Regions from separate parts of the Homo sapiens genome. Here region 1 is linked to region 2. The links come from fine-mapping of genetic effects on gene expression. A gene starts in region 2. The other region holds a variant in brackets. All regions are shown on one strand. Distances are between the middles of the regions.

Region 1 (15,862 bases), 670 kb after region 2:
TTCTATAGAACCCAGCCCATGACTTGCTTAGATACATTAAGCTGTCTTTCTCTTCAGAGCACTGATCAACCATCACCACTAGCCTAGCCCCATTTGTGCAGTTTAAAGTTGAGGAACTAGGAAAAAATAAGATTTTTGGCATGTGCTAGTGTTTCAAACCTGTATTTAAAAAATGTCAGGAAATATCACCCTAATTTCTCTCTTTAAAACAGTTGTCATGTATATCTAGTGATTAGCAGGACTGACGTTGTGCCACATTTAGACTCTTAGTAAACTATTTCTTGGATGAATCTTTTCCTAAAATCGTCCATTTCTATAACTTATCTGTAACTTATATCCATATGCATTTAATCCACTTTAATTTATAACTCAGGCCATTCTAAGTATCTTCTCATTGGTTCTTCTTCATCAGATTAGGATGTTTATGCTCCCTTGTGGTAAGCAAATGTCACCTTCTTCTTCATGAAGTATTTGCTTAGTGTTTCATTTGTGCTCTCTCATTCCATGGGAGGAAGGGGAGGTCTGCAAACTGAAAACCTTTTCACTCTTTGGCTCTTTGGTGTCTTGCCACTTTTCAATTGTTAGGAAGCAGGCCCCGCACAGGCAGGTTAATGTCTTCACTTGACGTGGAAATATTAGCCATCTGCTTATGTGACTTTCTTAAGAAGGTGTTAGGCCCTTGACTGTTCTTTGAGAAAACTAAGATAAAGCAAGTGTATTTTAACAAAATATAGTGCTTTCTGCCCACCATTCTCTTCATTTTGAGTTATGGGCTCCAGTGATACCTTGTTCCTCAAGAAAATTACTCTCCATTACTCAATTTTCAGATCTCTGTCTAAGTGGGTGTCTACCAATTCCTTTTGGCAGTGGTGTGTGCCTGACATGGTGGGATGGTGAGGAGAGACGCCTGTGCAGATTGAAGATGTGGCTCCTGCCAGCTGTAAACCTGCAGAGGTGTATTCTTTTGCTGCAATTCGGTGTTCTTGTAAGTTGGTCTGTCACCATCAGGCTCATGAGGAAAGGGACCCAAGAGAAAACAGAAACCAGCCTGAGCCCTCGAGGGTCTTATGTGTGGCATAGTTTAGGCTAGTGTTACCGGGGGGGTGAAATTGTTTGCTATTGCCCAGACTCAGATGGCAAAGACAAGTGTGGCCCAGATTGAAAGGAGTGCAGGAGGGCTGTGGGCTGTGCCCAGGCTCATCCCTGACAATGCTGCCTGTTGGGTTTATCATACTGGCCACAGGTAAGGCATTTGGGCAGCTGAGCCCAGGTGTTAACCTGTAAGTTGCATAAATTGTTCAAAGGAGCTTTGGAAAGCATCAGACAAAAGTGTTGCAAGGAGAACAACACAACTGAGAAAGGAGATAGACAGGGCTACAATCTCCTGTTTTACAGACTTTCCTGTTCCCTTCCTTACATTTTCAGAGGAAAAAAAGGCACAAAATGCAGTTGTTTTATAGCTTGCAGAGGAGTGACTTTGACAAGTTGTGGAAGGCCCACAGAGGACTGGCACTAGGGGATAGAAAGTCCTAATTGTTAGAAGGAGAAACAGGTCTAAAGGTTTTTAGACACCTCTTTAGGGGGTAATTATGACTATGACTTGGAATATCTAATATGTTCTTGCAGATGTATTCAAATCCACAACAATTTTTCTTTGGTCATCTCTCCTTTCTTTATGCTCATGTCAGAGTCCTTGAAAACTTGGTTCCCTAGTGTTACCACATAGCCATATATTCAGGCAAATGGTCCAATAAGGGTTATATTAAGGTTATTTAACAACTGGCAGTGCAAACACCAACCAGTCAAATGGCACCCTAATGAATCAATACAGAGGCACACAAGTGGCACAGCTGTCTTAGTACATGCTGGCTGAGTGTCAGCCCTGGGATGACAAGGTGATCTGACCTTGGGAACTTCAGAATGTCTTCATGAGCTGTCCCACCTCACTGGAAAACAGGCTTGCTTGCTCTTTCTCTCCTTCACCATGTCTGTCTATTTCTCTCTCACACAAGAGAAATGAGATTTATCAGAACCAGATTAAGGGTCAGGCACACCAAGGCAACAATCTATAAAAAGCACTACAACATCACTGGAATAAAAGAGAAATATTATGCCAGTTAATTAGGGCTTCTTAAAAACCTGGTGAAGTATAAATTTCTCTCTTATTGAAATAAACGGTAACCTGTTTTGATTTCTATCTATTTTGATATGTGTTTCTGTGTGGGGCAAGATTCATGTGCAAATGCAGATTGCACCACCAACTCTGAGACCTGCCAGCTGATGATTGCCTGAAGTCTGGGTCAAGTTCAGCTGAGAAATTGGAAGTAAACAAACTATGGTGTATTGCTCTATCCTAGACTTTGTAACAGTGGTCATAGAATTTAGAGATTCTCAATAGTTTATTACTGGGACGTCACAGGTGGGTACACATGTGCTACAAGATATTGTTCCTTTCAGCCCTCAAGGTGGTTGGGCAGGGCCTGCAGAGGCGGAGCTCCTGAGCAGCCTCATATGGGGCTCCTTGGAGGGCAGCCTGAGTGGAGCAGAGTCTGTGACTGCTCTGTGGTGCCCCTGGGTGACAAGTGTGATGAGCAACAGCCAGCACTTATGACTCTAGGTTGATGTGTTGTGGGAGGTCATGGTGCTCTACCACTCAGAGACTACTTGAGCAGCTGCCTGCGGCAGAGTACATTGATGCTGCCTGTTGTGGACAAGGGTCCTGTGGAGCTATTGGAGAATTTGTGGTTTTGGTGTGTAAGGAGCGGATGGTTGGATGTGGGAGGGGTAGAGGTTGTATATGGTTCCTGTGGGCCCAGCTCCAGGTCCTGTTTCAGAGTTAGTCACTCTCTGTATGTATTTTAGTCTCTCTTTCTCTGTATTAGTTGTCTATTGCTGCTGTAACACATAACCATAAATTTAGTGGCTTTTAAGAACATAGATTTACTATCATACAGTTCTAGAGGTCAGAGTCTGTAATGGGCTTCACTAGACCAAAATCAAGGTATTGGCCAGGTTGCATTCCTTCTGGAGGCTCTAGGGAAGAATCCGTTCCCTTTCCTTTTTTAGCTTTTAGAGGACACTTGTTGGCTCATGGCCCCTTCCTCCAGCATCAAAGCCAATAGCCCACCATCTTCAAGTCTCTCTCTGACTCTGCCCTCTGTTTTTGTTGTTGTATCTTCTCTGCCTGACTCTCCTGCCTACCACTTTTCCTTAGAAGGACCTTTGTAGTGATATTGGGTCTACACAGATAATCAGGATAATCTCCTCAGCTTGAGCTCCTTAATTTAATCACGTCCGTAGGGTCCCTTACCATGTGAAATAACATATTCACAGGTCTCCGGGACTGCAGCAGACATCTTTAGTGGGCTATTATTCCACCTCCTATACATATGATGGCTGCCCTTGTCTGATCTGCAGCTGATTCACCCTGAAGGATGACATTCATGCCCTCTGTTTGAGTGTTATCATTGTTTTGAAATACTTGACGTGAAAAAGTTTATTGGATTATAAATCTATTCTCATCATTAAAAATATTTCATTATGATATTGGCCAATGGGGAAAAAAGAGTGGTTAGATTTCTAAAATACAATTTGAACCATTATAAATTTTTCAAAAGTTATAAAAATGATTAAAACATTTGTATTATCATAATTATGAGAACAAAATTTCTCATTGATGTGACTCACAGACTTAAAGGATCATCATTAAAAACTCTTGATCACAAATTGTGTGCAGCCATTTCAGCTTTAAAATCTGGTATAAGAAAGTTACGGTTGTTAACGTTCATGGAAGCAAACTTGAGTTTCTAATTCTAATTTTAAAAAATGTAAAAATTGCTGGGAAAGTAATATTCAAATTAGATATTTAACATCTTTCTTAATATTTTATATTTAATTTTTTATCATTATAGCATATAAAACAAAAAAAAGTCACGAGGTGTTTTACACCAAGCTCCAAAGAGATATACCCATACCTCCCCCAGATTACCTCAGTGTACTCTACAAATATTATCATTTTCTATGTGTGGATAATGTGAAAAAAAAGTTGGAGAGAATGGATGTGAGTGAGGTCATCCTTTGTGACTGTATAGGACCAACTCATAGAGGTTTTTCTACAAATATTATCATTTTCTATGTGTGGATAATGTGAAAAAAAGTTGGAGAGAATGGATGTGAGTGAGATTATCCTTTGTGACTGTGTAGGACCAACTCATAGCTGTTTTAAAGAAAATACTACAAAATGATAGACAATTTCAATATAAGATTGATTGCTATGTTTAGAACACATGATAGATCCCTTATTTTGACCATAAAGAAAGAAGTCTATAGCTTTTATTCATAGACTATTAGCCTTTCCTCATGCCTGCTAGGGAATGTTGAACAAATTCTTATCACGTGAAGGGGTTTCCAATTATTAGTCTTCTGTGGGTACCCCATGTTTTGGTCTTTCCAAATTATTTCTGAAAGTTTCCTTAGATTCTTTTTCTTTTTTGGAGACAGGGTCTCACTCTGTTGCCCAGGCTGGAGTGCAGTGGTGGGATCATGGCTCACTGCAGCCTCGAACTCCTGGGCTCAAGTGATCCTCCCACCTCAGCCTCCCAAGTATTTGGGACTATAGGTGTGCACCACCATGCCTGGCTAATTTTAAAATTTTCTGTAGAGATGGGGCCTCCCTATGTTGCTCAGGCTGGTCTTGAATTCCTGTGCTCAAACAATGTGTTGGGATTACAGGAGTGAGGCACTGCACCTAGCCCATCTTTGATTGTAAAATAAATCTATAAATTTCAAAGAATTTGAGTCAAAATGCCTGAAGAAATAAATATTTTAGGTCAGGCACGGTGGCTCATGCCTGTAATTCTAACGCTTTGGGAGGCCAAAGCAGGCAGATTGTTTGAGCCCAAAAGTTCAAGACCAGCCTGGGCAATATGGCAAAACTCCATCTCTACCAAAAATATACAAAAGTAGCTGGGTGTGGTAATGTGCACCTACAGTCCTAGCTACTTGGGAGGCTGAGGTGAGAGGATGGCTTGAGCCTGGGAGGTGGAGGTTGCAGTGAGCTGAGACTGTGCCACTGTACTCCAGCCTGGGCAACAGAGCCAGACCCTGTCTCATTTAAAACAAATTTTGTTCTAGTATGGATTGCAGTGGACACATTTATTTTTATTAAGAAAGCCAACAGAAATGACCTCATAAACCCATGTCCTATAATGGGGTCCCTGTTCTAATGTGCATGGAAATGGAGGCAGGGAAGTGGGTGCTGAAAGGCAGTTTCACACAGTCCTGGCCGCATAACATTGGACCTTGGGGCATGAACAGGCACTTCAAAAGAAGGCATACAAGCAGCCAACAGACACATGAAAAAATGCTCAACTTCACTAATCATCAGAGAAATGAAGATAGCCACGGATACCATCTCACACCAGTCAGAATGACTTTTATTAAAAAGTAAAACAAACAAACAAACAAAAACCCAAACAGATATTGGCAGGGATGCAGAGTAAAGAGGACGCTTACACACTGCTTGTGACAATGTAAATTAGTTCAGCCACTGTGGAGAACAATTTGGAGATTTCTTAAAGAACTAAGAGTTGAACTACCATTTGACCCAGCAATCCCATTACTGGGTTTATATCCAAAAGAAAATAGATCTACCAAAAAGACATTTGCATTCACATGCTCATTGCAGCCCTATTCACAATAGCAAAGACATGGAATCAAGTCAAGCACCCATCAGTGGTGGATTGGATAAAGAAAATGTGTTACATATATACCGTGGAATATGATGCAGCCCTAAAAAAGAATGAAATCATGTCCTTTGCAGCAACATGGATAGAGCTGGAGGCCATTATCCTAAGTAAATTAACAAAGAAACAGAAAATCAAGCACTGCATGTTCTCACTTATAAGTGGGAGCTAAAAATTGGGTACACATTGACATAAAGATGGGAACAATAGACACGGGGGAATGTAAGTGTGGCAGGAGGGAAGGGATACATGGTTGAAAAACGACTTATTGGGTACTGTGTTCACTACCTGGATGACAGGTTCAATCGTACTCCAAACCTCAGCATCATAAAATGCACCAGGTAGCAAACCTGCACATGGACCCCCTGAATCTAAAATAAAAGTTTAAAAATAAAATAAAATATCTTTGTAAAACAAAAAAGAACAAACCTTGGTCCTGGAACACTTCCCTACCAAAAGATAAAGAGCTACACGGCCTGCGCTGGGTGTATTGGCTTGTGTGGAAATATCTTTCCCTGTTGCAAGCCCAATGTATGCTCCTTTGTCCTGCTTAGGCAGGTGCATCACATGGCACTGGGCCAACCCCACAGCTGTATGTTTCCTCCACAGGGAGGGGACTAGGTCCGTATACTGTGGCAGGGGTACACATAGCCAATTGCTCTGTGTGGGCTGTCAGGAGAGATCCACTGGCCATGGGATACTGGCACACATTGCTGAAGCAGCTCTTGCCATATCTCTTCTCCGTGTAAGTAAAGTGTTGTTCCATCCAGTGCTTGACTGCGTCCTGTTTTCCTTGGCGACTCCAGCACCATAATGCAATGGGCAAAGTATTAGGACTTCTCTTCCTGGTGGTTGGCATAGTGGTCGTCTTTGCTATTCTCTTGGTCTTAGAAATCCTGCCTTGGGGTTGGTAACCAGTGCGTGGGATTCCTCTCCCCTGGGACTGATAACGGTGAACGACATTCTGCTTAACATGGGGCACAGTGAGAGCCTCTTTGCTCCCCAGGGAACCCTTGGAAGGAGAGGCTGAGAGCAGCTTCGGCAGCACCACATGAGGATAGGTTGTAGGGAAGGAAGGCAGGAGTTTCTTGGGCAACCTGTGGCCTTCGTCTGTTC[C/T]GGGCATCTGTCCTCAGGTTGGCCTCTTCCCAAGCCTACCTCTCTCTGCCAGCCCTGTCATTCTCCACCTCCAGGATCGAGAAGCTGGTGGTCCACACAGAGCTTCTGGCGCCATTTCATCCTGTAGATGTGAAGACAAAATTCTGTCCAAGTAGTCTTTCCCTGCTGAAGTTAATGCAAATTTGTTCTCTGCTCTCAATACCTTTTATTCACTGCCTGATGTTGTACCACCTCCCACCCCAGGTCAATGGTTCTGATACCTCTGTTTATGACATAGGGTGACATGCATAATAACTGTACCTCTTTCATTCCCCTCTTCTGATTCAGAAGGTCAGAATCCCCAAGCAGGGGTCACTTTAGTACTTGGTATATATTGATAGTAAGTGCTCAACAAATACCTGTTGAATGAGTGAATGTATAATGAATGAAAAAATGATTTTTATGGAACAGATTAGATTGCATACTAAATGTTTTAGGGAAAATTATCAGGAACAGGAATTTACCAAGGGCAAAATCCTTAGGTCCCGTTTTTCTGATGTGCCCTTTTAAGCTTATATTCCTAGAAGTTAATTATTTATTGAAAAAGTAGTTTATACTCATTACATCTATTTTTTAAAGTTACAGAAAAGTATAAAGAATAAAATAAGAACTGTTTATAATCTCTTGTCTTGGAGATATCACTCCTAGCATTGCTGTATATTTTTCTAGACTTTTTTTCTAGTCACATATGCGAGAGTGTGTGTGTGTGTGTGTGTGTCTGTCTGTCCCCGTGTCACAATAAAGAAATACCTCAGGATGGGTAATTTATAAAGAAAAAAGGTTTAATTGGCTCACAATTCTGCAGGCCATACAGGAAGGATGACGCTGGCATCTGTTTGGGTTCTGGTGAGGCCTCAGGAAGCTTTTACTCACGGCAGAAGGCGACAGGGAGCAATGTCGCATGGTGAGAGTGGGAGCAAGAGAGAGAGCAGGGGAAGGTCCCAGACTCTTTTAAACAACCAAATCTCATGTGAACTAACTGTGCCAGAGCTCACTCATCACCAGGGGGATGGTGCTAACCATTCATGAAGGATCTGCCCCCATGATCCAATCACCCCCCACCAGTCCCCAGCTCCAACATTGGGAATCACATTTCAACATGAGATTTGGAGGGACAAACATCCAAACCATTTCAATATATAGTATATATGCCTTTTACAAAAATAAAACTCTGTGATGTTGCTTTATAAGATGTACAAATCTTATGTTTTGTACATGTTTTTAGCAGTACAAATAAAAGTGTATTTAAATGTTATATTAATGTAGATCAACCATCATCCTTCCTATATATTTAGAGTTTATGTATGTATTCACATACGTGTGTGTGTTTGTGTATATATACACATGTATGCGTGTGTATATATAAATATATATGTATATATGTATGTATATGAAGAATCTTATACGTCAAGATCCCACAACTCTGGCCTCTGGCCAGGCTTCCTTGAGGCATGGGAGTGAGATAGGCTGGGGCATATCTTGGCCTCCCTCCTGTATGGGCCCTTGAGTGGGTTAGTCACTTAACTTGTAGATTGCCAGTTTTTACCTTGCACGTTTTGTCTGCCTTGTAGGACTATTGTAAATTTAAAGGAGATGAGATGCTTTCTACATCTCACTTACAACTCCAGATGCCAATAATGATCATCCAATAATTAAATGTTAATATCCTTCTCCTTTAAACTTTTCTTTTCTTTTTGAGACAGGGTCTTGCTCTGTTACCCAGGCTGGAATGCAGTGGTGTGATCCTGGCTTACTGCAGCTTTGACTTTCCAGGGTCAAGGATCCTCCCATCTCAGCCTCCAGAGTAGCTGAGACTACAGGCTCACATCACCAGGCTTGGCTAATTTTTGTATTTTTTGTGGAGACAAGGTTTCACCATGTTGCCCTGGCTGGTCTTGAACTCCTGAGCTCAAGCGATCTGCCCACCTTGGCCTCCCAAAATGCTGGGATTATAGGTGTAAACTCTTTGTTAAGAAAATGATTCATGCCTCTAAGTTATGCCTCCTGGCTTTTTTTCTTAAATAAAAAAGATCCATTTTATGAACAGATGAACTGAAATTACCATTATTTTGATAGTTATGTCAGAATGTCTCACCACTGCACCTTCACAGTTTGCATGAATTACTGGTGCCACCCAAGGCTAGCTGTCAGGGAGCTCAGTGCGGCAGCAAGGCAGTTTGTCACATCTTTATGTCTTTCTTCTTTCCTACACAGGCACAGGCAGTCAGTTCCAAACACACCATTTTCTAATATGAAGGGCAGCAAACAATAATGGCTAAAAGCAATTTCAGTACCTTATCTCCACTGCCTGATCATGCACCACCTCCCACCCCCAGGTCAATGGTTCTGATTCCTGTTTATGACCATAGGCCGCTAAGGGAGCCCCATCTTCAGCCTTTCTTATTATGTTAAAGGCCTATAGTCCTGCTGGGGCAGAGAAGCCCACCAGAGAATGAATAGTGGCTCAATTTTTCTCAGAAGCCCAGCAGTATGTAATTATTCCAGTAATCCCATAGGCATTCAGATTGAAATCGTCATCATCCATGACAAATAATTATTAAGTCCCACTTTGTGTTTGGTTTCTAGGTATAATGAATGAGGTGGCAGAAAGTTTTTCGGTTAAAAGGACTAAAATCCATTTAATGCCTGGATGGACATCAGAATTAGGTGACAGATGAATCATGTGCCAGTCAAGGCAAGAAATGGTCTTTTCCGAAGTGGATATAAGCACTAAGTTGAGAGTCTCCTGATTGTTCCTTAGACTTTCTAGTTCCCACAACCTTGGGGACTCTGTAGGTGCCTACTGGGTAAGTGCTTGTTAATTTATTGTGTTTAGTATTTTAGAATGATAGAAACTGTTCTCTACTTTGGAAATGAGCAAAATAAGTTTAAATGTTGATAGTGTGTAATGATGTCTACATTCGCAGGTGGGGAAGAATTTAGAGAATTAAAAACAAATGTGTGAGCAGCCTCTTTAGATGAGCAAGGGAGGCTGTTCAGGTGTCCACCTGTGGACAAAGTATAATAATTTGTCCTCAGGCATAGGTGCTTTGGTGTTCTCTGAATGCATCCATGCCTGGTGGGGAGGAAGACTATTACCTAGCTTCAGTTTAGGCATAAATGAGTGAGAACAAAAATGCTTAGGCTTTGGCATAGTTTTGAGAAAAGATCAGTGCCTGTTAAGATTTCTAGACTCTTGGATCCTGGGAGGCAGTGGACAGAGAGTGGTGGAGAGATAACAATGACACTGCTGCCTTCTGTAAATGTCCTCATCTGCAAAATGTCTGGGTTGGACTGTCCAGCTTGAGCTCAGTGCTCCTTTCCTTCCTTGTCCATGGTTACTTCCTCCTTTGGCTCTTTCCCATTTATTTATTCATTTAACATTTACATAGTAAAGAACTGTGGGGCAAGACAGCCCCTGTCCCCCACCCCCCACCCATGTGGCTCCAGGTAGTAGGAGAGACAGATAAATGAGCAGATGGTTGCAGTCTAGTGGGGTAGGTGACATGCAGCCTGAGGACGGCTGGAAAATGCCAGGCAAAGGGCTGTGATAGGAGAACTTGAGGAGGGTGGAGAGGGAGTATCCCAGGAGAGGCCTGGAAGTGAGGGAACAAGCGAGGTATGTGCTATCAGGGGCACAAAGTCCCTCTATTCTCTAACTGGGGGTCTGCAAAAAGCAGGAAAGTGTATTGTGGAGAGCAGTAAAGAGGTCAGGAAAAGGCAGGGCACTGGAGGTTCTTTTCCTTTCTTTTTCTTACTTTTCTTTCTTACTTTGAAACCTCTCCATTTATGTGGACTTCCTCTAGTATGGAAATATGGGGACAAATAAATCCCTGCCCCCATCCATGCCCCCCACCATCTGAGTGCTCTCAGACACGCAGGTCGGGTGGTAGGAGAAGTGATGATGGGCTTCGTTGTCCAGCAGAGCGGTTCTCAAGTGCTCGCAGACATCAGAATCGCCTGGAGAGCTTGCTGAAACACAGACCGCAGACCCTCACCCTTGAGTTGCAGTTTCAGCACATCTGGGGTCAGGCCCCAAAATTTGCATTTCTTACAAGTTCCCAGGGGGTGCGGCTGCTGCTGATGGGTGGTCCTCGCTCTGAGACCTGCCCTAGACCCTCCTTTCTCAACCTGTAGTCCCAGAACCAGCAGCATCAGCATGGCCTGGGGCATGTTAGAAATGCAGCATCTTGGACTTTAACCCAGACCTCCTGAAGCGGAACCTGCACCACAAGCTCCCCGGTGGCTCCCATGCACGCGACAGTCAGAGAACACTGCTCTAGATGTCCAGAGCCTTTAGTCCAGGACTTTGAGATGTTTCCTCCAAGCAAAAAGCCTTCCACGGGCTCCCGCTCAAGTCCTGGGCCTGCGGTGCTGAGACAGGGCAGTGGCGTCTTGGTGCTCAGGCCTTGGGGTTAGGAGGTAGGAGGAAGGAGATCCTGACCATGAGAGAGAGACCTCCGTGGCCACAGCCTGCAGGTGACATGTAGCAGAAACACTTTCTCTCCTTGGTGCATTCCCACAGCCTGTGAGGGGCTCAACAGCACTGCTGAGCCACATCCTCCCAAGTACACAGAGAGGCAGAGGGCTGGACCCCAGTCTGGAGGGAGATCCCACAGCACCACGCTAGAGAGTCCTGCCAGCTTAGGTCCTCCCTGTCTGTCTGGCCCTCTCAGAAATATGCAGTGTTGGATCTAAAACATATAAAGAATGTTTATAGATCAAAAATAAGAAGACAACCCAATAAGAAAATGGGCAAAAGGTTTGAATAAACATGACAGAGAAGATATATCAAATGCCAATAAGCCCATGAAAATATGCTCAACATCACTAGTTAGTAAGCAAACGTGAATAGAGCCATAGTGGGATACCCCCACACTACACCCATTAGAATGGTAAACAAATAAAACAGCAGAACAAAATGCTGATCATAACAAGCATTGGAGAGGGTATTGGGCAGCTGGAACTCTCACATAGTGCTAGTGGAAATGTCAAATGGTACAATCACTTCCAGTTTGTCAGTTTCTTAAAAAGTTAAATGTATATTTACCGTACGAAATAGCCCTTCCATTCCTCAGTATTTATGCAAGGAAATGAAAACATGTGTACAGAAAAATGTGTACACAAATATTCACATCAGTTTTTCTGGATAATAGCTCCAAACTGAAATGAATGTCCAGAACAGGAGCATGGATAAACTAGAAGAAAAAAGCTAGAAAATAAAATGCAGGACTGATATGCACAATGTGGATGAATCTCAAAATTATTAGGCTGAGTGAAAGATCCAGAATAACAGTCCATACTCTATGACTTCATTTATCTAAACTCTAGGAAATGGGAAGCAATCTATAGGGCTAGAAAGTGGCTAAGAGACTGATTGCCTGATGAAGGGGTGGAGGGAGGGACGGGGCAAAGGGGTACCAGGACATTTTGCAGGGCAGTGGAAATGTTTGTTATCTTGATTGTGGTGGTGCTTTTACAGTACTGTACATGTGTCAAACTGATCACATTGTGCACTCTAATATGCACAGTTTAGTGTACTTCCATCATACTCCAATAAAGTCGAGGGCTGTGTGCCCCATTTCAGTGTTGGGAAAAACAAGAGTGGGTGATGAACTGGCCACCCTGGGGGTATCTGATGTTCAGAGGCCAAACAGAACCTTGGGCGTAGGAAGAGGTCTCAGCAGCGTAAAAACACCCAAAAGCTTAATGAGAAGGCTACAGTCAGAATCTGTGTGTCTGTTGACCGTGTCAGGACCCTGAATAGATTCAGGTAATTTACCAGACCTTTACTGGCCTTGTGCTGGCTTCAGAGATGGATAACAAGAGCAAGACATATATAAGAATTATTAGGCTGGGTGCAGTGACTCACGTCTGTAATCTCAGCACTTTGAGAGGCGGAGGCAAGTGGATTACTTGAGGCCAGGAGTTAGAGACCAGCCTGGTCAACATGGCGTTTCTACTAAAAATGCAAAAATTAGCCAGGTGTGGTGGCACACACCTGTAATCTCAGCTACTCAGAAGGCTGAGGCATGAGAATTGCTTCAGCCTGGGAGATGGAGGCTGCAGTGAGCTGAGATTGCATCACTGCATTCCAGCCTGGGTGACAGAGTGAGACTGTCTCAAAAATAAATAAATAAATAAATAAATAATTAAATGGAGAAATAGAGAGAAACAGAGACATGTAGAAAAACGATGAAAGGGCAGGCATTAATTGTTGGCTGGTGTGGGGACACAGAGCATTTGTGCAAGAGATAGAGAGAGTGGGAGCGCTCTGCCTGCCCCCTGCATCCTCAGCAGGAAGTGAGGGTGAGCACAGAACCTCCTTCATTTGCTGCCCGGAGCTGCCATTGTTTAGTAGTGTTGTATCAACTTGGTTATTTATGCCTCTACCTCAGTTTTCTTACCTGTAAAATGGGGATAATACCTATCCCCTAGAGTTATAAAATTTTCCATTAATAAGCGTTATTTTTTAGAGCAGTTGTGGGTTTGTGAAGAAATTTTGCAGAAAGTACAATTTCTCATATACCCCTTCTCTCCCTTTCCTATTTCATAGTTCCTCTGGGTTTCGACAAACGCATGTCATGTATTCATCATCACAGTATCATACAGAACAGTTTCACCGCTCTAAAAATCCCCCATGCTCCATCTCTTCATTCCTCCCTTCCTTCCTCCCCAACTCCTGGCAACCACTGATCTTTTTACTGTCTCTATAGTTTTGTCTTTTCCAGAATGGCATATAGTTGGAATCACAGTAGGTAGCCTTTTTAGACTGGCTTCTTTCACTTAGAATATGCATTTAAAATTCCTCTATGTCTTTTCATTGCTTGAAAGCTCATTTCTGAATAACACTTCATTATAAATATGGACCAGTTTGCTTATCCACTAATCTACCAAAGGGTGTCTTGGTTACTTCTGGTTTTTTGACAATTATGAATAAAGGTACTATAAACATTTGTGTGGAGGTTTTTGTGTCGATATAAGTTTTCAATTCATGGGGGTAAATACCCTAGGAACTCAATTGCTGGAAAGTACAAGCCTATTTTAGCTTTGTAAGAAACTATCAAACTGTCTTCCCAAGTGGCTGTGCCATTTTGCATCCCCACTAGCAATGAATAAGAATGCCTGTTGTTCCACATCCTCACCAGCATTTGGTGTTGTCTGTGTTTTGGATCTCAGCCATCTGTAGGGTTTCCATAAGCACTGAATAAAATGATGAATGTAAATCTCTGATCACAGGCCCTGGTACAGAGGCGTTGCTCGGTATCCAGCAGCTGTTGTTACTATCTTTGATACCTTTCCTCCTTTGCCCGTGCCCTTCCTCCTCTTCTTGGCCTGCTTTAATCCTCTCTTTTATTTAAGGCACAGTTTTCAGTTTTTAATCTTTGAAAACTCTTTCTCCTCCTCTCTGCCAGCCTCTTCCCCTGAACTCCTTGTCACTTCTAATTAGACTTGTGACATGCATGGTTCAATAATCACTTGCAGTATTAGGATTCTACAGAGAAACAGACCTATAGGAGGTTATCTACTATCTATCTATCTATCTATCTATCTATCTATCTATCTATCTATCTATCTATCATCTATCTATCTATCTATCTATCTATCATCTATCTATCTATCTATCATCTATCTATCATCTATCTATCTATCTATCATCTATTATTATTTCTCTGTCTGTCTATTATCTATCTATCTAGAAATATTTGTTTTAAGGAATTGGCTGCTCACATGGTGATGAGACTGGCAGGTCTAAAATCTGCAGTTTGGGCTGCAGACCCAGGGGAGACCTAGGGGAGAGCAGATATGCGGTTCAAGTCTGAAGGCTATCTGATGGCAGAATTTCTTCTTGCTCAGGGGAGATCGATCTTTTGTTGTATTCAGGCCTTCAACTGACTGGATGAGGCCCACCCACATTATGGAGGGTTACTGCTTTTCTAAGAGCCCACCAATCGAAATATTAATCTCATCAAAAACACCCTTACAAAAACATCCAGAATAATGTTTGACCGAATATGTGGGCATTGTGGCCCAGCTAAATCACATAAAATCGACCATCGCAAGTATGTGGATAGTGTTTTGACATTAAATTAGGAGCAAGAACCTTGTTCTGAACTTTTTCCATCCCAGCCAGCTCTAGCACTGAGGCAGATTCTAAACGGGCATGATAAATATTGGCTGAAAGAATGCTTGAGGGAAAGAGTCCTTTAGTTACCTGGTTTCAGATGTAGTATGCGGGGGTGATAAGGTGACTGCCATAATACCAGAGTGATCATTTACATTAAGGTATTCTTGCTTGAAGGAATTCACCACAGAGGATAATTTTGAATTATGTGAAAAATTTACAGAAATTTTAAAGATAGTGGTATTTCCAAATGAATTAGGGAGGCAAATTATTAACCTTTGTGATTTTGACTACCTGCCTCCTCTCCTTTTATTCCTTCTTCACTATGGAGGGATATAAAATAAGAATGAACTGAAACTATACTTGCAGGTGTCCAAGGTTTCTATGGAGACAGATCTTTGTAATTATTACTTTGTGGGTTGTTAGGAACTCACCTGTGAGGTACAGTGAGTGGAAAGTTCTGAGAGTCTGTGGCTCAGCCATCGTGACTATGTAACCAGTATTGGTCGGTGGCCCAAGGTCTCTCTCCTTTCAGGGTTCAACCTCCAACCTTATTTCTGCTTCCTTCATGTTGGAATTCACACTGTGAGGTAAATACACCATAGTACAGCTAAAGAAATAAACAAGCAAAGGCCAAGGGGATCATAATACACAGGGTGGTCACCATGGTCAGGCGATATTAGCTCACAAGGACAAAAGAACAGAGGCATTTGGATAAATCCAGCCATCAGGAGCAACAACTGCTGTAAATATTGTTGAATCACACACTTTCAGAACTGCAAAGGTTTTTGAGGGAATAAGGTATAGCTGGAAGGAACACAAGATTGAAAGTCAGAAA
Region 2 (15,862 bases):
GCTGCAGGGAACTGAGATCACGCCACTGCACTCCAGCAAGGGTGACAGAGTGAGACTCTGTCTTAAAAAATAACAATAAACAAATAAATAAAACCTATATGTAAGCATGTAAATATTATTTCTAGTTTTCAGGAATTACAAAAAATAACTAATTATGAAATAATTACTTTTATTTCAAGTAGATAAAAAATTACATGTCAGATAATCAAGAATGTTTTGAACACTTTTACTCAATATTAAAAGGCCATAATTGGAAGGGGAGAAATTTAGTATAAATTTTTTCAAAAATAAAAATGTTTAAATACATCAATGGTGTCATTCTTTATCACATTAAATAAAAAATGAATCCAAAGTGGAAGAGTTTTGTTTGCAATTATGAGAAATAAACACATGTACCATAAAAATTCAGGTCTTCTGTTTCCCAGACCTGACAAATAAATAAATTATAAACTATAATGTCAACATTAGCTAACAGTAATGTCTTTTGAAATAAAGATTAAAGATTTAGCACAGAAAGAACTGCATAACTTTTAGAAAACAGAGTGTTGCAGTTTGAAATTCATTTCACTGATTCACTTTAGTATAAAGAAATCATCATCTAATGAAAGAGAAGTGAAAGCAATCCGACATTTTTTTTCCTTCATACAAAATATGTGGTTTGCAAGTTGATCACCAAAATCATTAACTGATATTTACTCCAAATATATTTTTACCCATAACAGCCTACGAAAGCCATGTCCTATAGTACATATGTGCAGCTATGCAAACACATAAGTGCTAAAAATATACTTTTACATTATTAAAATCCAGTGTTCATGGATTCTGATATTTACTAGACATCTACCTGTATGGATAAAGACAGTACATCTATACAAAGTTTAACCTTTTCTTGAAGCTATAACAGTAACAATTCCCTCAGAAGTTACTGCTATCTTTAAGGCATTTTCCCCTCTGTATTAAATGGCCTCTTACATCGAGTTTTTCTTTCTCTCATTGAGTTTTACTGTTGACTACTTTTGCATCCTCTTCTCTACTGTTGCTTACATATCTTTCTTACTATTCCATAATCTTCTTCCTCTTTTCACTTTATTCTTGGTAGAACTGAATTATGATAAGGAAAAAAAAGTTCACACATAAAGCATAGTTTAGGCATAGGATTTTCAAATAATTCTAGTTTTTTCTCTTGGGAATAGTGTTGGCCTTCAGAACTGTAATGTAATGAAAAGTTGTGTTTCTAGAAATTTACCTGCTGAAATAAATGAAGTAATATTGTGCTAATAATGGCATCTATTAAAAGAAAAATTCATGCTCGTAACAAATATTTCACCAAGTATGATCAATACCTCTCCAGATATCCCAATGGATTCTTCTGCAGCTCCATACTGACCAATAGGCCCATTCTGCAGTCGTTCCAAAAGCTCCAATAAAGCAAAATTTTTTTTCAATCCCCAGACACCTGAATCACCTAGAATAAATATAAAAACAAAAACTAAATCTAACAAAATGGACTATTAATCATTTTACCCATACCTCAAAAGTAATTTCTAATATAGTTCAGTAGTTAATGTCTAAATTTTTAAAATTCAAATTTTCCCCATTTTTAATACCAAAATAATTGCTTTGTTAATGCTCTCTTAAAAAACAGAAGAATCCTTCAGCCTTCCAAGTAGAAACACACTTTAAAATTTATTATTTTTTGGCCAGGTGCTTTGGCCCACGCCTGTAATCCCAGCAGTTTGGGAGGCTGAGGCGGACAGATCACTTAAGGCCAGGAGTTCAAGACCAGCCCAGTCAACATGGTGAAATCCCGTCTCTACTAAAAATACAAAAATTAGCCAGGTGTGGCGTCAGGCGCCCATAATCCCAGCCACTCAGGAGGCTGAGGGACGAGAATTGCTTGAACCCGGGAGGTGGAGGTTGCAGTGAGCCAAGATCACACCACTGCACTCCAATCTGGATGACAGAGCAAGACTCTATCTCAAAAAAAAAAAAAAAAAATCTAAATACACATAAAAAAAATTATGGTGGTAAAGGCTGCACAACAATATGAATGTACTTAATGTCCCTAAACTTAGAAATGGTTAAAACGGCAAATTTTATGTTATACATATATTTTGCCACAGTTTAAAAAAATTATTTAAATCTCTTTTACTTTTTTTTTGAGACAGAGTCTTGCTATGTTGCCCAGGCTGGTGTGCAGTAGCGTGATCTCTGCTCATTGCAATCTCCACCTTCCGGGTTCAAGTGATCCTCGTGCCCCAGCCTCCCAAGTGGCTGGGACTACAGGTGTGTGCCACTATGCCCAGCTGATTTTTTTGTATATTTTGGTAGAGATGGGGTTTCGCCATGCTGGTCAGGCCGGTCTCAAAACTCCTGGCCTAAAGTGATCTGACTGCCTCAGCCTCCCAAAGTGCTGGGATTACAGGTGTGAGCCACCGTGCCCAGCCTATTTCTCTATCATTTAATTTTACAAGTCCTATTTTGTCATTGACTTTTACTATACATGCTAAAACAAGCATTTTCAAATACTTTTTGCAGCAACCTACCTTAAGAAATACATATAACATTGTAACCCAGGACAACATACACACTCTTCCTGAACCTATGAATAAAAGTCAGATCCTTTAGCAGAAGGAATATTTGTTATGGTAAACTCCTATGCAACAAATAACATCTGATATAGCTGCCACCTAATACATATTCATTAAATGAATAAATATATAAAAGGTTGATGGAGTCATTGCCTGCAGGGCCCCCCTTCCTCCTGGCTCTTAAAAAAAAAAAAGCCATTCTGTGTTGTGGTTCTCCCAAAAAAACTGGACTGAACATATCTATCCTCAGCCTTGCCCCTAGAAGGCTTTCTCCTTAATTTTTAACACATATTCTACAACAAGCTGAGTTCTATCTATTTACATAAAGGTTAAGAAGTACACTAAGTGATCATTTAAAAATATAGTCTTGACAATTTTCTAAATATCCAGTCACTATATAATGAATATATACAAATAAACCTCTAGCATTATTACTAGGTAGTGCCTAATATTTATATCACTTAATTCTGTGTCAAAACAACTCTATAATCTCAATGGCTTAACACAACAAAGATTTATTTTTTGCATCATGCAACATCTCAGGGATTAGGGAAGACAAGAGAGACTCTGTTCCCCACTGACCACAAACAGGGACACAGCCTACCGAGCCTCCAACCATCTGGACCACCTCACTGCAGCAAGGAGAAGAATTTACTTTGAAAATCATAAACCTTCTCTTATTAACTTCTACCTGGATGCTAACACTTCACTTCTGCTTACATTTCACTGATCAATGAACATCACACAGTGATGCGTAAGAGGGCAAGGAAGTGTAATTTCACCATATGAGCAGAAGAAAATCAGGAATATTGCTGAATGGTATTAATAACTACTCATATTCTTCTTGGACTAGAGAGAAATTCTGATTCAGGATTCAGAGAAGTCAGAGAGGAGGATGGATGTATTCAGTCTAGTTCCCTGTCATAAATTTCTAGTTTTGTTAAACATTGAGGATAGTAACTCTTCACATTGTGGTATTAATGTAGAGAAGGTAAAGTGCTCTTCAAAAAGGTAGAAGAGCCAGGTGTGGTGGCTCATGCCTGTAATCCCAGCACTTTGGGAGGCTGAGGTGGATCACTTGAGGTCAGGAGTTCGAGACCAGCCAGGCCAACATGGTGAAACCCCATCTCTACTAAAAATACACAAATTAGTCAGGCGTGGTGGCAGGTGCCTGTAATCCCAGCTACTCAGGAGGCTGAGGCAGGAGAATCGCTTGAACCCCAGAGGTGAAGGCTGCAGTGAGCTGAGATCGCGCCACAGCACTCCAGCCTGGGTGACGGAGTAACACTCTGCTTTAAAAAAAAAAAAAAAAAAAAAAGTAGAAGAAAGGTTCTATTCTCTATTTGAAAAACATTACTATTTCTTTAAGCATAGTTTTTTTGTTTGTTTGTCTGAGACCAAGTTTTGCTCTTGTTGCCCAGGCTGGAGGGCAATGGCGTGATCTAGGCTCACTGCAACCTCCATCTCCCAGGCTCAAGCGATTCTCCTGCCTCAGCCTCCCAAGTAGCTGGGATTACAGGCATCCACCACCATGCCTAGCTAATTTTTACATTTTTAGAAGAAAAGGGGTCTCACCATTTTGGCCAGGCTGGCCTTGAACTCCTGACTTCAGGTGATCCACCCATCTTAGCCTTGCAAAGTTCTGGATTACAGGTATGAGCCACCTCACCTGGCCTAAGTATAGTTTTATATAAAGAAATAGTATGATATATGCATATTTCACATAATAAAAGACCAAATAAAAGTACAGAGACTTTCCCAATCCCTATTATTTCTTGGCTACTGGTAAGTTAATGCTATCTATAATGTTATTACTGTCTATTAGTTGTCAGGCAAATAGACTATTTATATACATCAAAGATCACCAAAACCTTAAAAATCCTTTTCTTTCTCCAGAAAATATTTTAAAACCATGTTTCTTAGCATTTCAAAGTCTTCCAGCCTAAAATTATAGGTACTCTTGCTTCCTTTTTTGGTGGATAAATTATTTTGAATGTGTTCCACTTGAAAAATAGTATGAATATATTAAAACTGTCTTAGATAGTGCAACTGACCTGGAAAAAAAATGGCAACCTTAAACTCTTTTGGAGAAAACTCCCTTATCAAAAAGAGTAAACTTACAGAACTTACGTTTGTAAAATAACTGTTCAAATGTTAGTAAATGCTATTATTTCCAAATCTGGTATCTGAAAATAACTTAGTTTGAAATACGTAAAGAAAAGTTTTAAAAGTATACAGAAAACTGCAAAAAAAAGCCACAAACCCTTCAAACTCATTTTAACAGAAAATAAAGAGTAATTATCACAAGCTACAAACACTTCTGTCCTTGATATTAGTAAATAAAAACATGGTGAGACTCAAATGACTTATCTGTATTTTCATTATTGGCTTATTTATTTGTAAAGAAAACATTGTTCTATTGGGTTTATGGCTTCAGGCAAATGATTCACTCTGTGATACACATTCTTATTTATTTGAATCAGGGTAGCACGTTTTTCTCAGGTGTCTTAAAGCTCTTTACAGATAAGTATTGAATATAAACATCTCAGAAGATAAAATAAAATTAGTAACTAAGAGTGAGATAGTTTATAGCTTGAAGATTATTGACCTTAATAGAAACTTAGGCTTTCTGAAACTTTCTGGGAATTTTATCATTCTAAAAATCAAGTGGAAGGACATTGTTTCCTATGACATTTGCATTACATGAACAATTTTCAATCTTAAATCCATACAAATACTTTTCCTACCTAGGTCTGTTACTTGTCGATCAAATGGGCAACGGATTGCTCTTCCATGAAGAGGTAGGCGAGTGAGACAGTCATGACAGACGGTATGGCCACAAAGCAAAAGACGGGGAACTTTGTCTCCTTGCAAAGAAAAGACATCTTCACAAACTCCACACTCTAGCACCTAATATTTGAAAAGGAAGGATGTGCTCTTTAAACAATTTTAAAAGCATACATATTTTAGGTATATAAGAAAATTCACCTAATATATTGAATCAACATTGTTACTTTATTCCTCTATGAAAAAAAAACTATGTAGGTTGTAAAATCTTGAATCACTTTTAAGTCATTCCATTTGACCGACCCTGTCAAAATTATATCATAATGAAATATCTTTGAAATACTAAGTGTTGGGGCAAAGATGCTGTAAATTAACATCTTTGTTATCTTTTGAAAATTATGATTTCAGTCATTACATCTGAATCTGTACAAACAATATGTAATTCTACTGAAGGTGGGTTCTTAAGCAATTTCTCTGCAACTACCTAACCCATCATTAATTTCAACACAAATAAACTATCATTAATTTCAACAAAAATAATCTAAAATATGTACTGAGATAACAATTACCCCTGCAAATGATAAAGAACTTGTTAAGAAAAGACTGCAAGTAACTTTCAAGTATCTTCTACTATCTAATGTACATTAAATAATACAAAGGCAAAAAAAGCAATCATCTTAAATTTCAATTCCTGTTCTCTATCAATAAATATAGCTCTGAATTAGAAACTAGTTTGTCTTTCTAGCTCTAGTTACAGACACATGACTTGCACAAGGCTACACAGTCAGTCAAAAGAAAGGCCATTTATCAGCATATTCTGATTCTCAAGTCCATAAGTTTATGTTTTACAAATAGTCAACAAATTGTATTTATAGCAATAAAGCATTTTCAGCACTTATTTCTAAGTATATTTGTAGTGTTTCATACCTTGCATTAATTTTTTAAAAATACCCACACTGTACTATTCAATCATACCTCAAACTCCTGTCATTCAAGACCTGCTACAATCTGGTCCCTGTCCTATTGCTTCACTGCCATACTCTTCTGACCCTATGCTCCAACTATATCCAACAGCTTATAGTTCTCAGAACATGAGAAACTGTTTCATGTCTCTTCATGCTAACACTGAGGAAAGGACTATACTTGTCCTTTGGGCCCCGATGTACTCTGTATAAGCGTCTACCGTAACACCCAAAACACTTTAATACCTTGGTCTTTTAGCCCGTCTTTCCCTGTTGGACCAAAGAACCCTCAGGAACTGGGTATTTTAAATACCAAGTACCTACTGCTTACATAAAGTCCAGTAAAATAATTTAAAAACAATTAAGCTCACCATCATCAAACACACAACACGAGGTAAAAAACAGAAAACCCAAGGCAGAAATCAGACTAAATCTACTATGATTTTAAACCTAACTCTACAATTAACTTGGACTTAGTGCTTGAGATGCAAATATCTTTCACCATACAGTGATAATTCATAATTGCTTTGCATCTTATCATGGTTCAAAAGAAATTTAAATTTAGTCCTTCAATGTAAATAAGGGTTTGGGAAGATAAAAATGAATAAAAATAAGAAACATAACATTGTTCAGAGAAAAGAAGATGAAAATTCTTTACGTGAAAAGATGTTCAATCTAACTCATAATAAGAAAAATGCAAATTAAAGCTAGGCATGGTGGTTCATGCCTGTAATCCCAACACTTTGGGAGGCCGAGGCGAGTGGATCATCTGAGGTCAGGAGTTCGAGACCAGCCTGGACAACATGGTGAAATCCCATCTCTACTAAAAATACAAAAAAATTAGCCAGGCATAGTGGTGGGCGCCTGTAAGCCCAGTTTACTCAGGAGGCTGAGGCAGGATAATTGCTTGAGCCTGGGAGGCGGAGGTTGCAGTGAGCCAAGATCACGCCACCGCACTCCAGCCTAGGTGACAGAATGACACTCGGTCTCAAAAAAATAAAGAAAGAAAAATGCAAATTAAAGCTACATCAAAATACTTTTTTCAGATTAGATCAAAAATGTTGGTAACATTTTGTTAGTGAAGGTGTGGGAAAGCAGACACTCTCATACATTACTAATTGCTATGAAATGTTTATTGAGCAATACAGCTTCTATGGAGGGCAACTTGACAATACTTACCAAATTTAAATAACTCAGTAATTCTAGTTGCAGGAATTTATCCTACAAGCATACTAGACACGTGTGACAAAATCTGTATGTTACTCCTTAAAGCATCATTTGCATTAGCAAAAAATTGGAAAGAAAGTAAATATACATCAATATCAGCTTGGAAAATAAATTGTGGCACATTCATAATACTATAAAACTATATAGGATAGTGAGAAAGATGAAGTTTTTCATATATACACAGAATGATTTCATATGATTAAAACAAAAAGAAAAATAATAGAATATATTCATTTTTGCATAAAGGTGGGGAAAGAGCAAATTTTTTTTGTATTGTTGTATAAGCGTATTGTCTTCCTGGAAGGATACATAGGACACCAGTAACATTGGAACACTGGTTCCCCATGAAAAAGGCAAACAACTGGGGAACAGCTATCCACGTATAATTCTGTCTATTATTCATATATACACATACTTCAATTTATCCTACATTTTTTAAAAAGGGGAAAGTTTCACGTTATCAAATTCTTTAGGCCAGGCACTGTGGCTCACACCTGTAATCACAGCACTTTGGGACACCAAGGCAAGAGGACTGCTTGAGGCCAGGAGTTCAAGACCAGCCTGGGCAACACAGCGAGACCCTGTCTCTACAAAAAAAAATCAAAAACTGAGGTGGGAGGATCATTTGAGCCCAGGAGGTCGAGGTTGCTATGAGCCATGATCGTGCCATTGCACTCCCACCTGGGTGACAGAGTGAGAACCTGCCTCAAAAAAAAAAAATTCAATTAAATATAGAAAAAATATTCATAGGCTGGGTGCGGTGGCTCACGCCTGTAATCTCAGCACTTTGGGAGGCCAAGGCGGGCAGATCACGAGGTCAGGAGATTGAGACCATCCTGGCTAACGTGGTGAAATCCCATCTCTACCAAAAATACAAAAAATTAGCCAGGCGCGGTGGCGGGCACCTGTAGTCCCAGCTACTCGGGAGGCTGAGGCAGGAGAATGGTATGAACCTAAGAGGCGGAGCTTGCAGTGAGCCAAGATTGTGCCACTGCCCTCCAGCCTGGGCGACAGAGTGAGGCTCTGTCTCAAAAATTCACAATAGAATTTGATATAAAATAAATGCAACATTTTATAAATGCTGTATTATGATACTCTAATAAAGTAAATTTATGACAATAAACTCCAAAGAACCATATTAAAATTGTTTAGTTCATTTCAATCCTGTATCTCTGATCCCATCACTATACAAAGATTTAAAAGAACTTCCTTATGCTGTTAATGTATTTTTCAAAAAGCACTAATAAAATTCCATTGATTAGCAAACCAAACACAGGTCCAAAAATAAAGTTACTAGACTATTTTGCATCAACTCGGTAAATAATACAGCAAGAAAATATTTCCTCAGTATCTATAAATAGGAATTGTGGTTAACAGCAAAAAACCCTAGATAGGAAAAAGCTCTTAATTTTACACTTCAAAAAATGCCAAAAAAGCTTCAAACTTATTACTTGTAAATCAAACTGTAATCAATCAGATATTTTATTTTATGTTGTTATTTATTATTATTATTATTTTTTTTTTGAGAAAGGGTCTCACTCTGTCAGCCAGGCTGGAGAGTAGTGGCCTGAGCATGGTTCACTGCAGCCTTGACCTCCCAAGCTCAGACAATCCTCCTGCCTCAGACTCCCAAGTAGCTGGTACCACAGGCATGTGCCACTACGCCTGGCTAATTTTTTTTTATTATTATTTGTAGAGATAGGATCTCACCATGTTGCCCAGGCTGGTCTCAAACTCTGGGGCTCAAGCAATCCTCCCACCTCAGCCTCCCAAAGTGCTGAGATTAAAGGTGTGAAACTTTCTGTGATACATTTTTAAATGTCAGTTATTTCACAATATCAGATTTTTTATCTTTTATTTTTCAGATGGAGTCTCACTCTGTCACCCAGGCTGGAATGCAGTGGCACAAACTCAGCTCACTGCAACCTCCGCCTCCTGGGTTCAAGTGATTCTCCTACCTCAGCCTCCTGAGTAACTGGGATTAACAGGCCCACACCACAATGCCTGGCTACGTTTTGTATTATTAGTAGAGACGGGGTTTCGCCATGTTGGCCAGGCTAGTCTCAAACTCCTGACCTCAAGTGATCCGCCCACTTTGGCCTCCCAAAGTGCTTCCCAGGCACTTTGTGCTTTACAGGCGTGTGCCACCGCGCCTAGCCACAATATCAGATTTTTATGTTACTGTTTTCTCTAATGATAAAAGCCATGTCATTATCAACTTGTTCACAAGCAAAAGGCCATTTTACACAGTATTAGCATTATATACTTCAACTTTTACCTTCCAATAAATACTTCTTGCTTTCATCTATAGAAATGACAGTGAGATTTTTTTAGTTTATGCTACTATACCTACTACAAATTATGGCATGAAGATTTTGTCAGAAAGGACTATTTCATTGCACAGTTCAGGAATATTTTACATGTTAAGATGAAAATGAACAAGGTGAGCCTCCAATGTATCAAATTCTGTGCTGTAAGAAACTGGAGTTACATCAGGCTTTGGTACACTTTTGAGACTGTAAGGCAAACAGGGTAACAAAAAAATAGATACTGCAATGATACCCATTCCAATTATGAAATAAAACTTAAACTTCAAGTTAATTCACAAACTGCTCTTCAAGTATTCTCTACTTAGCAAAAGCACAATTCAATAAATAAAATCTCAGTCACACAACATGCCTAATAATGAGGGCTCCTTTGCATATCAGATATGCCGTGTACCTGTAGAATAACTTCATTAGTACCTAAAGGTCATCTGAATCAACAACCACCAATATTCACTGATACTAAATTGTGGGAAGAAATGTCTCATTTGCTGTCATATAAAACCAACATTACCTGAATAATCATAGGTGTCTACTTTTCAAGATGTGAAAAAAACTTCATATATTACCTTGATCAGTAATTCATAACCCTGGTTGCACATTAAAATAACTTCTGGTAATTCCTAAAATATACTGATGTCAACCTCATCAGAACTGGAGGAGGAGTGCATCAGTAGTGTACTAAAACTCCTCAGTGATCCTAATATGTAGCCAGGAATGAGAATTATCAATCTCTTAGATTAGAGATGCTCCTGAAGGTTACTCTATAAACCAATGGGATCAGTTCTCCCCTCCATATCTTTCCGTGCACAACAGTGGAAGGGAAAAATGAGTGCCACATATTTCAAATGATTTTTTAGCAAATTGATTCTGGAGCATGTATACATGGTAGAATCTCAAACTTCAAGCATAAGAAAATTCATAAACTCTATCGTTAATGCCCAGCTATGACGATGCTGCAGACTTGTGCAAAGAGTTAATAGACTGTACTACTAACAGGGGAGGGGGCAGCTCACCCAATAACAGATGTCTGATTACAGACGCAGTACAAGAGCGAAAAGTACAGACTTTAAAGCCGGTCAACCCGGGGCTCTGCCACACACTGTTTACCTAAACCTGGGTTTCCTCCCTGTAAAATGGGAATTCACATCTACTTCATAAGTAGATATTAACGAGCTAAAACACCTAACTTAGTACGTAGTTACGATGATGATGACTCAATTTATAATACTAAGCTAATTAATGTCTGTTGAGTTTAACTAAAAGCAGAGGACCTGGAGAAAAGACCGGTCTAGGTCACTGCCACTGGCCCGCAAGCTCCTTTTCACAAATGTCCCGATGATGACATGTCATGAGCAGAAGACCAGGCAATTTCAGGCCATAGGAGAGAAAGGATGCAGAGGACAGGACGAGACTTGTAATGCCAAAAGGGGCCCAGAGGCCGCGCATCCCACCTATCGAAGCCTGGGCCGCGGCGATGCCGCCAGGTCTCCAGGATGAACCGAAGGGAGGCCGATGGTGGAGAATAGAGCACGCAAGGTCCCTCACCTTCACTACAGCTGTCCCCCGGCTGCCCTGCCGGCCACTGTCTACTCCCGCTCCGAGCTTGTTTACAACCAGGGTAGCCATCCTCGCAGGGGAAGCGCCACAGAAACAGCCTTCAGAGTCCTCAACTGAGAGGCGGGGTTGAGCCACCTACCCAGAGGCCTCTGCGCACGCCACCGGCGCACAGGCGCAGTAGGACACTGGGCGCCGCTTAGCCGACTCTTACTCCTCCTCCCCGCAATCGTCGGGTGGTTAGTTGCACAGCCTCGCGCATGGGCACTTTTGTTATTTTTCATTATGTAGTCTGCAGCTGCTGGAGGAAAGACAAGAAAAAAAAAGAAGGGACAAAACGATTAAAGTTTTGGGGTGAAAACTCCAGATCCTTTAATGATTTTTCCTCTCGAATCCAAACCAGCCAGGGCGTGAACTGAGGGCGGTGAGGGGGTACGGGCATCTCCCTGCATGCAACGCGGTTTTTGTATAAACTACAAATCCCAGCATGCCACTCTCTCTCTCTCTCTTTTTTTTTTTTTTTTTTTTTTTTAAAAAAAAAACTCCGGCAACGTTGGCCTTTGGGAGGCCGCGTATTGTTACCTAGGGGTGGTTTCTTTTCCTGCAGTCGCGATGTGTGATTGCAGATGGAAAACAAAGTATTTTATGCCTACGTTTCTAAGATAGAAGAAATGGACTTGTTGAAAAGAAGCCAGTTTGTAAAGGACACAGTAGGAGAATTTAAGGTACCACCACCAGAGAGAGGTTGAGAGTGCGTTTGACTTTTGGTTTTGCCAAACGCGAGGTTTTCCGTTTCCTTCCGGGGCAAGTTGAACCTGTCCAGCCCCCGTAGGCTGTGGGTCAAAAGTGCCGGTCAAAATGGAAGTGAATCCCCCTAAACAGGAGCACCTGCTGGCGCTAAAAGGTAAACTTTTGCGAACCTGATTCCCCCTTTTCTGTTTCCTTGCATTCCCTACTTATCGAAGCCTTTGCCATGTAGGCCTCATCCTTCTTAAACACTCAGTGCTCGCCCTCCTGCTCTGTCCTTTGCCGCCAAGCGGGAGGAAGCGATTTCTCCTGGATGCTTTTTAGGTTTATGGGCCCCTTTCTAGAACGAAATAGATACCTGGTAAATCGTTCTTTCTGATCTGTGCTGCTTCAGTCACGAGATTTTAGCCGCAGAAGCTGACGTCCCGCTCCTACCGTGGAGATCTCTGTGAATTACAGCGGGCATCCAAAGTGCTTTTTCCTTCTGTCTCTTGTTTCTTCCTGTGGCACTGACGAAGTTAATCAGGCTTCAGCTTCCCCTGTAAAATTAGTATTGCATGACAGTAGTGCAGAGAATTTAGCAATACATAGTAATACAACATATAACTTAGATTTATTCAAAACAAACTGCAGTTTACTTCAAATCACTGTGTATGTGGGAAATATGTCCGAGATCTAATGTCAACTCTCATTTTTTGTACACAGCCATTTTGAGTAAGTTTGGTGATTTAATTAGATCATTATTTAGGAAAAAACAGCAGCACTTTTTTTTTTAGGACAATTTTTTTAATGCCTATTTTCTGGAAACCTTTTATTTGAAATCTTTTCAGCTTTATTTTATTTGTTTTTTACTACAACAAATGCGCTTTTTGTTTCTTGGATGCCTTAATATATGGTTAACAATGACTTCTTGAATGAGCTGAGGAAATGCTCAATAAACATTCGGGTTCAATTGAATTGCGCTTACTTTACTTATGGCATCCATTTTGAGGAACGCCTTATCCTTCCCATTATGATGTAGTCATCAGACTTTCTAGAAGCTCATCAGTCTCATATAATGATGCCTGTGTTAGCGAGATTGTCTCTTACTGTGGAACTTTGTAATGTTTAGTGATACAGTGATGGGACCTGTAAGCTTAACCTGAGCAAATGATCTAGACTAAAATGGAGATTAAAATGGATTGTTACTCGTGGAGAAGAGGGAAAAGAAGAAAAGCAACTAATTGTCGTGTTCTTTATCTCACAATCTCACTTCAAGTATGTGGAGTAAATATTAATTCTCAGAGTTTAAGTAACTTTTCCAAGATCACATAGCTAGTGATTGAGGCAGTGTTTCAACGCAAGGCCTGCCTCTCTTTCCAAGAGTCCGTGTTGCCTCCTAAAGAATGAAGCAGCATTCTCAGAGATAATTCCTCTACCAGCTACTCCGATGGGAATTTGGAACAGTTCTATTAACTGCTACGTGTGATTTATACAAATTAGAAGCTATTAAAAACAGTTAAATTGCAGCCGCGCGTGGTGGCTCACCCCTGTAATCCCAGCAGTTTGGGAGGCCAAGGCGGGTGATCACAAGGTCAAGAGATCAAGACCATCCTGGCTAACATAGTGAAACCCCGTCTCTATAAAAATACAAAAAGTTAGCCAGGCGTGGTGGCGGGCGCCTGTAGTCCCAGTTACTCAGGAGGCTGAGGCAGGAGAATGGCGTGAACCCGGGAGGCGGAGCTTGCAGTGATCCGAGATCACGCCACTGCACGCCATCCTAGGCAACAGAGCGAGACTCCATCTCAAAAAACAAACAAACAAAAAGTTAAATTCCAGTGATACAGAGACTGCCACTGGGAATTTTTAGTTTTCTGTTATTCTTTTTTTTCCAAAACCAAGGATACCTAAGAAAGAATATTTAAGCAGCCTAAGCCAGGCGTGGTGGCTCACGCCTGTAATAGCACTTTGGGAGGCCGAGGCTGGCAGATCACTTGAGATCAGGAGTTGACACCAGCCTGGCCAACATGGCGAAAACCCGTCTATACCAAAAATACAAAAATTAGCCAGGTGTGGTGGTGTAATCCCAGCTACTCGGGAGACTGAGGCAGGAGAACCGCTTGAACCTGGGAGGCAGAGGCTGCAGTGAGCTGAGATTGCGCCACTGCACTCCAGCCTGGGTGACAGAGTGAGACCCTGTCTCAAAAAAAAAAAAAAAAAAAAAAAAAAGAACAATAAGCAGCCTAAACGGACAAGTGCTTCAAAATTGACTGATAGTTTCAACTTTATTAAACCTCTTTAGTACCATCTTATAGTTAACCCATTGTTCTAGTTAATCAACAATTTTCACACATTTCAATGTGCTGATGCTGAATGCCAAATGTATTAATTTAAGTGGTCATTTAAGTTCACTTTATCTTTTAATATGTAAAATGTTAAAGATAATATCTTGTTATTCTTGGTTGGGTGAGGTGGCTGATCACTTGAGATCAGGAGTTCGAGACCAGCCTAGCCAACATTATGAAACCCCGTCTCTACTGAAAATACAAAAATTAGCCAGGCGTGATGGTGTGCACCAGTGGTCCCAGCTACTCAGGAGGCTGAGGCACAAGAATCACTTGACCCTGGGAGGCGAAGGTTGCTGTAAGCCGAGATTGTGCCACTGCACTCTAACCTGGGCAACAAAGACTCTGTCTCAAAAAAAAAAAAAAAGTCATCCCTTGAGTATAACACTGATTGACTTTAGACAACAAGAGAATTTCTCAGTGCCATATTTTACAATGTGAAAGTATAAGGAACAGGGAAGAAAAACATTAGTGCATCATTAGTTCTTGAAAGTATATATGATAACATTTAGATCCATATTTAAAATATGGATGTTAAAGATCACAATTATTTATGAATTTGAGAGTTGTCAGATCTGTTAGTGGGCAGTATCAGTAGGTAAAAATAATGAAATTATTTCTTCTAACTCTTCAGAATCAGACAGTGATTCTATTGTGAAATGATGACAAGAATCCATACTCATGGTTATCCTAGCAGTGGGAGAACCCTCATCAAGTAATTCTCTAATGATTTTTGGGGAGAAGGGATTCAACTTATTTTTTTCTGCTGTTGTTAGGATGTGAAAAAGTCTGTTTTATGGCTCTTACAGCTTTGGGCCTGATTAGCAAGCCTAACTTGCAGATATTGGAAGGCTCCATTCTTGAGCCTATGCACCATATGCTGGAATTTATTATCAGTGACTTAATTTGGGGCAACTTGAGGACTTCTGTGCTCTAAGAGAAAAAAATAGGAGTCTAGACTTCTTGTTCTCTTCCAAACTGGAATTCAAAAGCCATGGTATTGGGGTCTCCATACTGTTTAATTGCCTGGATTATGAGGAGAAGACAGTGTCACAAAACTGGTTCTTAGCCTGGTTAAACCATATTAGCAAAGTTAAACCATATTAATGGTTTTAGTTTTTACTACAGAGAATGACGTGAAATCATCAAATATTCTATCTATATATTTGTTTGGTGGAATCCATATAATTTTTTTTTTTTTTTTGAGACGGAGTCTTGCCCTGTCACCCAGGCTGGAGTGCAATGGGAGTACGATGGCGCGATCTCAGTTCACTGCAAACCTCAACCTCCCGGGTTCAAGCGATTCTCCTCCCTCAGCCTCCTGAGTAGCTGGGATTACAGGC

What was found.
Region 1: its variant is fine-mapped to the expression of TRIM23 in spleen (GTEx, PIP 0.91).

The regions. Positions count from the first base shown.
Region 1 is chr5:66,282,925-66,298,786 of GRCh38, forward strand. It overlaps LOC105379004 (a long non-coding RNA gene), which reads right to left and starts at 15,157. Exons shown (of 3, transcript XR_948385.3): 1 at 15,115-15,157. It overlaps LOC124900988 (a long non-coding RNA gene), which reads left to right and starts at 9,490. Exons shown (of 3, transcript XR_007058792.1): 1 at 9,490-9,706. The variant C/T (reference allele first, on the strand shown) is at 6,861.
Region 2 is chr5:65,612,755-65,628,616 of GRCh38, forward strand. TRIM23 (tripartite motif containing 23) reads right to left here and starts at 11,579. Exons shown (of 11, transcript NM_001656.4): 1 at 11,440-11,579; 2 at 5,339-5,501; 3 at 1,344-1,465. The coding sequence starts at 11,520. TRAPPC13 (trafficking protein particle complex subunit 13) reads left to right here and starts at 12,273. Exons shown (of 13, transcript NM_024941.4): 1 at 12,273-12,352. The coding sequence starts at 12,307. SHLD3 (shieldin complex subunit 3) reads left to right here and starts at 12,273. Exons shown (of 2, transcript NM_001365341.2): 1 at 12,273-12,352. RefSeq lists enhancers at 11,249-11,578, 11,709-11,788.